Regions from separate parts of the Homo sapiens genome. Here region 1 is linked to region 2. Evidence: fine-mapped expression QTL. Tissue or cell type: whole blood. Region 2 holds a variant in brackets; the other region holds the start of a gene. All regions are shown on one strand. Distances are from middle to middle.

What was found. PIP is the estimated chance that this variant, and not a neighbour inherited with it, causes the effect.
Region 1: ZNF200 starts here. The variant in region 2 is fine-mapped to the expression of ZNF200 in whole blood (INTERVAL, PIP above 0.99).

What each region holds. Positions count from the first base shown.
Region 1 is chr16:3,232,109-3,237,252 of GRCh38, forward strand. It overlaps ZNF200 (zinc finger protein 200), which reads right to left and starts at 3,050. Exons shown (of 5, transcript NM_198088.3): 1 at 2,879-3,050; 2 at 1,398-1,728; 3 at 725-813; 4 at 313-439. The coding sequence starts at 1,647. RefSeq lists enhancers at 3,089-3,148, 3,159-3,368.
Region 2 is chr16:3,260,602-3,265,745 of GRCh38, forward strand. It overlaps LINC00921 (long intergenic non-protein coding RNA 921), which reads left to right and starts at 3,167. Exons shown (of 2, transcript NR_033904.1): 1 at 3,167-5,144. RefSeq lists enhancers at 3,228-3,387, 3,828-3,927, 4,078-4,147 and a silencer at 3,408-3,587. The variant A/C (reference allele first, on the strand shown) is at 3,010.

The DNA.
Region 1 (5,144 bases), 28 kb before region 2:
TTCAAATATACCTGTTGAGAACAGAGTTCAGAAAATGGGTTCAGAACAGTTTCTATATCCACAGTTTCTATGTCTGCAGGTTTTCCCTACCTCTCCCCTCACTGCCCCCAAGATACAGGGAAAAATGGCCACCCACCCACAGCTGGAGTTCTGTGGCAAGGCTCTGCTACATTGAATAAAACAAAAGTAAAATAAAATGTGTGTGTGCACATAGGCTTACCAGGTGTGAATCGTCCCCCAAAGCTAAAGAGATGAAGGACATGCTTTTCCCAAAGCAAACAACCTGAACACACAAAGGCTGTGATTTCTTACCCAGTAACATCATTTCCCCGACACTGCTGTCATCTTCCTTCTCTGACGTGAGTTGTTGAGTAGGATCCAAGCTCACACATTCTTCCTGGCAGTGAAATACATTCAAATCCTCAAAGACCACCAGCTCCTGAAAGAGCAAGAGGCCCCTTTCATCTTAGTAACTGAGGTTCACTGACAGCCCTACTGGTAAGAAAAGCTGACACACAAAGATCAAGGGAAGGGATAGCAAGAGGGACCTATAAATCCCACAGAGGTGCAGCAAAGACAGGACAGCCAGGCTGAGAAGGGCTCAAGGAAAAAGCAGAAGAAAAACACCCAAGAAGGCCAACTCCTAAGAATGTGTTTTTACACACAGGTTGGCCAAGCACGGAAGGTGATGGATTCAGGCAGTAAATGGGAAAACCAAACCCACCTCAGGGTTAGCTTTCAAATACAGAGACACTGTCTCTTGTTCCTTTTGGACTCCTTTGGGCAGAAGCTTCACCAAGGGACGAGGATGCACTGGGGAAAGAGGAAGGTTTAGTTAGTGAAAAACTCAGTGACTCTAACACAGAGACTCCCCATACCGCGAGGCCAGGCTGTCCTCATTCCTTTGACAGGTAACTCATGGCCTTTTCTGCTCCTGTGAGCCCTTATAGAGTTCAAGCCATAAACTCTAGGGTCTTGAACCTATGGCATCTCCCTGTTATGAAAAGAATGACTTCTCTAAGCACCTTTCAGAATTTCCCATAGAGTATTACTAAAGGAGAGCTTAGGGCAACGTAAAGTGTGAAGATGCCCAGAAAAAGCACAAAATTTCTAAAATTCCACATCAACCTAACTCAATAATTCATCTGATTTATCCTTAAAAGATATTTCCCTCAGAATGTTTGGGTAAAACTGACACTACAGAAAGATGCACACTGTTTATTCTGTGGCCTTACTCACACCCAGCACTTGAGAAGAACTTCCTCTTTCCAACACTAGAATTGACTCCTTTTCCAATATACACCATCCTAACTTGAATTTATAACTAACACAGAAACCTATCTTAGACTCCAGTACCTCCTCCTCCTCTTCTAGTGAAACAAGCATGTGCTTCTCACCTCTGTTCTGAAGGCTTGAGCTCACATCTTTCATAATAACCAAGGTCTCCTTGACTTTCTGACTGGGCTGGACCAGGCTTGGCTTGGGCAAGAAGGTGAGGAAGTGCTCCAGCACTAGCTGGTGGATGGTCTTGGGCCCGTTAGTGGCATCTCGAAGTAGGTCTTGGCCCAGCTTGGAGTCTGGCGGAACTCTCAGTATAAAGGACTGCTTTGGCTTTGGGGGCATAGGAACCACTTTTGCAGCCATCATGCCTTGCAACCACACACCACACTCGTTTCGCGGGGCCTCCAGAGCCACCTCTTACTAGAGGAAATCTGCCAGAGAGCCAAGCTGTAGACAGAGAAACCAGGGATTACCCAAAAGACCAGGCACGGCATTACTGCACTCCAATATGTGGCATGGCTGGTGAGGCTACATGAGATCTAAAGAAAACGACAGCTGGGATAGGGAAATCATAACTGAAACGCAGTATTTGAACAAGATATGCTTAGGAAGATGTGAAAGGAAGATCCTGAGAATGAAAAACAGAGACTGTGCAAACCTCAAGTCCAAAGGGAAGGGAGTAAGGGTGGAGCGGAGAAGGCCAAGGTCCAGCCTCCTGAGAAATACAAAGTGTGGCCAGGTACCGGTGGCTCACACCTGTAATCCCAGCACTTTGGAAGGCCCTGGCGGGTGGATCGCTTGAGTCCAGGAGTTCAAGACCAGCCTGGGCAACACAGCAAGACACCGACTCCATAAAAAAAAAAAAAATTAGCTGGGCGTGGCGACACAAGCCTGTGGTCCCAGCTACTGGGGAGCTGGGAGGATTGCTTGTGCCCAGGAGGTCGAGGCTGCAGTGAACTGTGATCGCGCCACTGCACTGCAGTCTGAGCGACAAAGCAAGACCCTGACTCTAAAAAAAGAAAGGAAAAGAGAAAGGAAAGAAGGAGGAAGGGAATCAGGGAAGAGAAAGAAAATAAAAGGAAAAAGAAAGAAAAGACAGAAAGAAAGACGGTGTGTAAAACCCACCAGGAATAGGTTAAATCAGGCTTGGAGAAAGAGCAATGGGCTAGAAGACAGGAAATCTGGGGTCAATACCGAGGACATCTGCCTAAAAGCAGGTTGGTCACTGAATCTGGCCATACTGTACCCCTCGAACCGAAGCTCCCTCCGGTGCCCTTTGGGCGGGGAGGCGGTTGGTGACTCTCCCGGGGAGCAGATGCAAGGCCGAGGAGGTGTCCACACACCGCCTGCCGACTCCTCTCCGCCGTCAAAGCTCTGCTGAGAGCGGCAGGCGACATCCCACTAAGGACCGCCGGGCCAGGCTCACTCTGGGGCCTCTTCCGCTGGTCAAGGAACACCTTTACCGTAAAGCTCAGCGTGCGCCCCTGCCTGAGGCGCTCACCAGGCTCCCTACCCGGCCTTGCTCCCTCAGCAACGGACACGCTCCGCTCCCCAGAGGCGGCCTCAGCCTGGTTCCCGCCCTCACGGAGCCCCTCACCTCTCGGGGCCTCTGCAGCCCCTGAGCGTTTGCTGGGGACGGCTCAGAGACTCAGGCTCCGGGAGAGATAGAAAAACTAGGCGCGAGCGGTCGAGCCCTCCCCTCGCCCTTCCGAGTGCCCTCACAGGTCGCCGGCGACTATTCGTTCGCGCCGCCGCCAGTTGAGGAGAACGGCAGGGACTCGGTGCCTTCTGGGAAGTCGGGCGCTCTGCGGCTGTGACGTCACAACCGGTGCCTTGTTTCCGGTGCAGAAGCCTGGTCTCCCCGTTCGGAGCCGGCAGTCTGCGCTTGAGACGTTAAGACTTGAGACAGGCCAGAGGAGCTCTCAGGGCCGGAGGGAGGCCAGGACGGCTGTAGCCTCTCTGTGGTTCTGCCTGGAAGACGGAAGGCAGGTGGTTGGCTCTAGTCATCCACGACGGGCTGGCACCTCTCCAGCTGCGGCCAGTCTAACCCCAGGGCCTGCTGGGAAATGTAGTTCGAATGCAAACAACCAATGGACGACCGTCAGGCGCGGCGGTTGGGGCGGGGCAGGCCCCCCCACCGCCCCACCCCCCGCCCACCCAGCGCCCGCGCTCCCCCCACCCCCCACCCCGCCACCCCCCTACCCCGCCACTCCCCCACCGCCCTACTCTCCCCACCCCCCACCCCCCTACTCTCCCCACCCCCCACCCCCCACCCCGCCACCCCCCACGGCGCCACCCCCCAACCCCCACCCCCCTACTCTCCCCACCCCCCTACTCTCCCCACCCCCCTACTCTCCCCACCCCCTACTCTCCCCACCCCCCTACTCTCCCCACCCCCCCACCCCCTACTCTCCCCACCCCCCTACTCTCCCCACCCCCCTACTCTCCCCACCCCCCCACCCCCTACCCTCCCCACCCCCCCACCCCCCTACCCTCCCCACCCCCCTACCCTCCCCACCCCCCTACCCTCCCCACCCCCCTACCCCGAGGCTTAAAGGAAGCAAGCTATCTCTCCGACCGGAAAATCAAGACGCCTCCGCGGTTTCCGCCTTTTACTGCGGTTCTCCAGTAAAAAGACTGCGGAGGCGGACAGGGTGTGGCCGCCATGGGACTCCGCCCCCGCTCTGGTGACTCCCATAGGTTAGAGATGGGGCACCGACATTGCCCACTCCAGCTTGCTAACTTCTACACTGCTGTCCGCACCGGCCGTCTTGTTTTTAAAGACATCTTAATTGCCCTTCTCCTACTGTCTCGGTTTCCTTTCTCAATTTCAGCTTCCTACGGAGGCCGAACAGAGTTTTGTGTTTGTGCGTTGTATCCACACTCGGTTCGTTCCCCAGTGACGCACTGATCAGGGTTCGGACAACTTGTGGGCAGGGATGGCCTTATTTCTCGATGTAATACCAGCCTCCAGAAAGTTGACAAAAGTAAAAATATAAATGAATGCCTCTTCTTAAAGTTAATTATACCTGACTAATGGCTGACGATGGCTTAAAATATGTTACAAAGAAACGAGTATGAAAACTGTGTGGCACCAAGACATTCTAGAAAAATAAGGAATATCTGCCTTTTCAGATCAAAATTTACTAAAAAGCCTCCGTTAATCAAAGCATTATGGTTTGAATTATGAGGCAAAACAGATAACTGAGATGTCTTGAAGTAAAATATAAACCTGTGTGATTGTATTTTTTAAGAACTTTTTCTTGACTCTGTTAACAAACAAGAAATAGACTGGAAGATAATTGTAAAGATTAGCTACACAAAAGATTATACATTCCTAAGACAAAATGAACCCCTGCCAACTGACAAAAAGCAAAGGCAATGAGGAGCTCTTCCCGAGAGGAGGAAAACTAATTGGTCATTAACATTTAAAAAGATGCTTAACCACACTACTAGTCAAGATTATCACTTTTAAAGGGAACCACATTTTTCACCTATCAAACAATGAAGGTGGAGAAATAGGCACTCCTTTCGCTGGTAGTGTGGTGTGTGAAGTCATCTTGTAATATATATTAAAATTAAAAGTACAAGTATGTACCCTTTGACCTTCACAATCTCATCTGTGAATCTGATGTCTACAAATTTCTTGTAGAATTCTTTGTAGTGACAAAAACTAGAAATGACATGCATGTTCATACGTAAGGAAAGGAGTAAATTGGTGCATTCATACTCTGGAAATTACCCAGCTATGAAAAAGAATGGATTGGAACTATATGTACACCTGGAGGGATGGCCATAAAATATTACATGAAAAAGTTTCAGAGCTACATATATTATGCATAATTATATTTTTGGAACAAACA
Region 2 (5,144 bases):
GAAATTGGGACAATTGCCCACCCTGTTTAGATGGGTTAATTGACATACTGAACACATGTCTAGCTAGGAAGAGGCACCACAGGGCCATTCATTTACTCTTGGAGCACCTGCTGTATGCCAGATGCTATTCTAGGTACTACTGATACAGAACTGAACAGAAAAAAACTTCTTGCAGTGCTCACATTCTTTTTTTTCTGATATAAATGCCCTTCAGAAGAGGCCACATTCTTTTTTTTTTTTCGAGATGGAATTTCACTCAGTCGCCCAGGCTGGAGGGCAGTAGCGCAATCTCGCCACTGCAACCTCTGCCTCCAGTGTTTGAGCGATCCTCCTGCCTCAGCGTCCCAAGTAGTTGGGATTATAGGTACCGACAACCACGCCTGGCTAATTTTTGTATTTTTAGTAGAGACGGGGTTTCACCATGTTGGCCAGGCTGGTCTTAAACTCCCGGCCTCAAGTGATTTACCCACCTCGGCCTCCCAAAGTGCTGGGATTACAGGCGTGAGCTGCTGCGCCTGGCTCAGAAGATCCCGCATTTTTTTTTTTTTGACGGAGTCTAGCTATATTGCCCAGGCTGGAGTGCAGTGGTGCTATCTCAGCTCACTGCAAGCTCCACCTCCCGGGTTCACGCCATCCTCCTGCCTCAGCCTCCCGAGTAGCTGGAACTACAGGCGCCTGCCACCACGCCCGGCTAATTTTTGTATTTTTAGTAGAGACGGGGTTTCACCGTGTTAGCCAGGATGGTCTCGATCTCCTGACCTTGTGATCTGCCCACCTCGGCCTCCCAAAGTGCTGGGATTACAGGCATGAGCCACTGCGCCCAGCCAAGAGCCCACATTCTTATAGGAAAGTGTGAATTGATATAAACAAACAAATACACAATGTATCAGGGAGTGATAAGTTGGGGGAAAAAACAGCAGAATAATAGGGTTAGTGAGTGCAGGGGATTGGTTTCATATTTTTTTATTTTTATTTATTTATTTAGAGACAGAGTCTCACTCTGTCACCCAGGCTGGAGTGCAGTGGTGCTATCTTGGCTCACTGCAACTTCTGCCTCCCGGGTTCAAGCAATTCTCCTGCCTCAGCCTCCCAAGTAGTTGGGATTACAGGCTCACACCACCATGCCAGGCTAATTTTTGTATTTTTAGTAAAGACGGGGTTTCACCATGTTGGCCAGGCCAGTCTCAAACAACTGACCTCAAGTGATCCAACCGCCTTGGCCTCCCAAAGTGCTGTGATTACAGGCATGAGCCACCGTGCCCCCTGGTTTCATATTTTAATAGGGCACTTGAAGAAGGCTTTTGTGCTTGAACAGAGACCCAAAGGAAGAGGAGTAAGCCAGGTATTCATTTTGAGGATGAGCAGTCTTTGCCTATTTACAGAGTGCAAAAGGGGTAACTTTGTGCTTAGTGTTTGAGGAAGAGTGGTGGCTGGAGCAGAGGCACGGAGGAGGAGTGGATGGAGGGGTTAGAGAGGGAGCTGGAGTCCCCTATCAAGTAGCAGGGCTCCCAGGACACAGCAAGGACTTGGCTCTTACTCTGAGATGAGGGGACACTGGAAAGTTTGAGCAGAGCAGTGACATAATTGGAGTTACGCTTTAAAAGAAACATTCTGGGCCGGGCGCGGTGGCTCACACATATAATCCAGCACTTTGGGAAGCCAAGGAAGGTGGATCACCTGAGGTCAGAAGTTCGAGATAAGCCTGGCCAACATGGTGAAAGCCCGTCTCTACTGAAAATACAAAAATTTGCTGAGTGTGGTGGTGATGTGCGCGTAGTCCCAGCTACTCTGGAGGCTGAGGTGAATCACCTGAACCTGGGAGGCGGAGGTTGCAGTGACCTGTGATCGCACCACTGTACTCTGGCCTGGGTGAAAGAGTGAGACTGTTTCAAAAAAAGAAAGAAAAGAAAAGAGAACACTCTGGCTTCCATAAGAGACAAGAGATGAGAAAGGTGGAAACAGAGAGGAGAAAGCAATCTATTGTCACAATGCAGGAAAGCGACTGCAGGGCCCTGAACCACTGTGGAGGCAGAAGGGTCAGATTCTGGGTGATTCTGAAAGCAGGGCTGACATGATAAGGGTAGACTGGATACTGGCGGGTGTGAAGATGCATCTAAGATACCTGTTTCTGGCCAGATTTTACAAAGGGCCCTTGTTGCTACCTTAAGGAGTTAGTGTTGAATCCTGCAGCAGCTAAGAGCTTCTGCAGGATCTCCCTCTCAACTTGGACCAACCCACCTGCCGATCCCAGCCCAGATCAATGAGATCTGCTGCCCAGTCCCCTACGCAGATAACACTAATTGTAACTGATCTTTCTGAGGGCACCTCCTGAGCAGCTTGGAAACGGAGGGAGAGGAGAGGAAGCCAGCTTCCCAAAGTGGGGTGTGGCAGGTGGCCTTAACCCTGCTGAAGGGCTGCAGTCATGGGGCTCTGAATAGATCCCCACACCACTCACCAATGAGCTTCATTTGGAAGGCGGTAACGTTAAACAAGAGGGTTTGTAAAAAATAAAGGCCTACACACATAATTTTTTCTGATTATTAAATCTAGGTGGAGAGTACGTGAGTATTCATGTTACTCTCTCAACTTTCTTGTGCTTAAAAATCTTAAAATAAAAACTTTAATACGCTCTGTCCTACCAATATTTATAGGAACCTGACTAGCAGCCAGGCTTTGGACACGCAATCCCCGGCCACCAAAGGGCTGACAGGCTAGTGAAAGGGGCAGAAAAATAACAAAACTGTGTCTGGAAGGCAGCTACTCCCTTTTTTTGTTTGTTTGTTTTTTGAGACGCAGTCTCACTCTGTCGCCCATGCTGGAGTGCAGTGGCGCGATCTTAGCTCACTACATGTGCCTCCGGGGTTCAAGCGATTCTCCTGCCTCAGCCTCCTGAGTAGCTGGGACTACAGGCGCGCGCCACCACGCCCGGCTAATTTTTGTATTTTTTAGTAGAGACAGGGTTTCACCATATTGGTCAGGCTGGTCTCGAACTCCTGACCTCGCGATCCG[A/C]CCGCCTCGGCCTCCCAAAGTGGTGGGATTACAGGCGTGAGCCACCGCGCCCGGCCCTTTGTTTTCTTACCAACTAAGCAGCAGCACTGACACTGTTTCCTTTGAGGTTCCGTTTGCTGAATCCTGCCCTCTAAGGTGCTCCGCCCTTCCACTCCCCGCCCCGTGCTGCTGTCATTCCCACGCCTCACCCTGTTTTGCAACTTCTTGTTTATGAGCCTGGAAGCCACGAAGTGGTGGGAAATACGAGATTCAAATATCTGGTGGCCGTGTGACGTGAGTAAATTACTCGATTTTTCTCAGTTTCCATTTCCTATCAAATGGGTTGTTCTGGGAATTCGGGGAAGTAACAGTGCCGGGAACCGCGGGAGGAACCGCCAGCTGCGTCCTCGGACGTCCCCAAAGCCCAGGGCGGCGACTGGCACGACTGTCAGGGGCGCGTCTGTTAAGAGGACAGGGGGTCCCGCCCCGGCACAGCCGTCTCCTCCAGGACCCCTCCCGCCGACGCCCCACGGACCCCACGCCCGAGCGGAGACCGGCGCGAGTCCGGGGTCTCCGGTCCGGCAGCCCCTCCCTGGCCCGGCGCCCCAAAGGGAAGCGGCCTGGGGGAGGAGACGTGTGGAAAGAGCGGCAGAAGATAAAGAGGAAGTAGCGGTAGAGAATAAAAAGGAACTGTCCGCAGTGTGCCCGGACGCGGGGAGGCGCTGGGGTCAAGCGAGACCCGACCTGCACGCAATTCCCGCCGGGGTCCCGGCCTGCCTGCGGGAGGGAAAGGACCCAGGGCGGCTTCTGCCAAAAGTGCGGCTTCTGCCGAAAGTGCGTCTTCTGCCGAGGGGCCCACATAAGGCGCGACAGACACTCCAGCCCGACCCCGACGCCCCGCCCTCACGCATGCACATGCGCGGAACACTCCCAGAAACACATCTCCCAGAGCGCCCCGGGAGCACGCGAGCCAATTGGAGGGCGGATTAGCGGGGGCCCACGTCTCCCAGAGGTCTCCGAGTCGCGGCTCTGTTGGTCTGATTGGCAGCCGCAACAGCCTATAGCTGCTTTTCGCCGGAGGGGCCACGCGCCGTTTGCCGGGACTGAGCCGCTGTTGTCGCTGGTATCCCGGGAGCAGCGCCGGCAAGTGGAGTCGTCGTATTCCGGGCGGCCCGCGGCCCACGGGGATGGGACGTCCCGGGGCTGTGCTGACCCCAAAACCCTTCCACACTTTATTAGCCTGTCGCCCTTCTTTCATGTTTACAGCAAATATTTTCCGAGTGCCTAATGTGTCCCACTTACTGTGCCACGTGCGAGGGTGCACGTGTCAGGCAAGATCGCTGTTCCAAGGAGGCTGAGAACAAGTAAATGGTAATTACCAGTTATGACCAAAGCTGTGAAAGGAACAGATACATCAGCCTAACAGCAGCACTGCCGTTTTCTCCCTTATAATCAGCAGAGGCGGGCTAGAGCAAGGATTCTCAAACTCTGCCCCCTCAGAACCCTAGAGTACGGTTGCTGAAACTTCTGTTTTTTCCTTTTGAACAAATCTAGTAACATGCTGTGAGCCAGAGAGGTAATGGTTTGGCTCAAAGAAGGCACATGCATCTGGTTTCTTTCTTCTTTTTTGAGACGGAGTCTCGCTCTGTCGTCCAGGCTGGAGTGCAGTGGCGCCATCTCCGCTCACTGCAAGCTCCGCCTCGCGAGTTCACGCCAGTCTCCTGCCTCAGCCTTCCGAGTAGCTGGGATTACAGGCGCCCGCCACCACGCCCGGCTAATTTTCACGCCCGGCTAATTTTTTGTATTTTTAGTAGAGACGGGGTTTCACCATGTTAGCCAGGATGGTCTCGCTCTCCTGACCTCGTGATCCGCCCGCTTCGGCCTCCCAAAGTGCTGGGATTACAGGCGTGAGCCACCGCGCCCGGCCCAGGTTTCTTATTTCAGGAGCTTCATAGGCATAGACCTCCCTCCTTCCCTCCTACCCCCTCCCCCCTCTCCCAACTAATGCCAGACCGGCCACTACTTTTTAACTGTTTTACATATTTAACCTTCAAGAAAGATTTCCTTTGATCCAAGTGTATTGCAGCCCACAAAAAAGCTTGGAAACCCAGCTAGATGGTCTGTTTTTCTAGTTCCTACATTGGATTTAAGTCCTA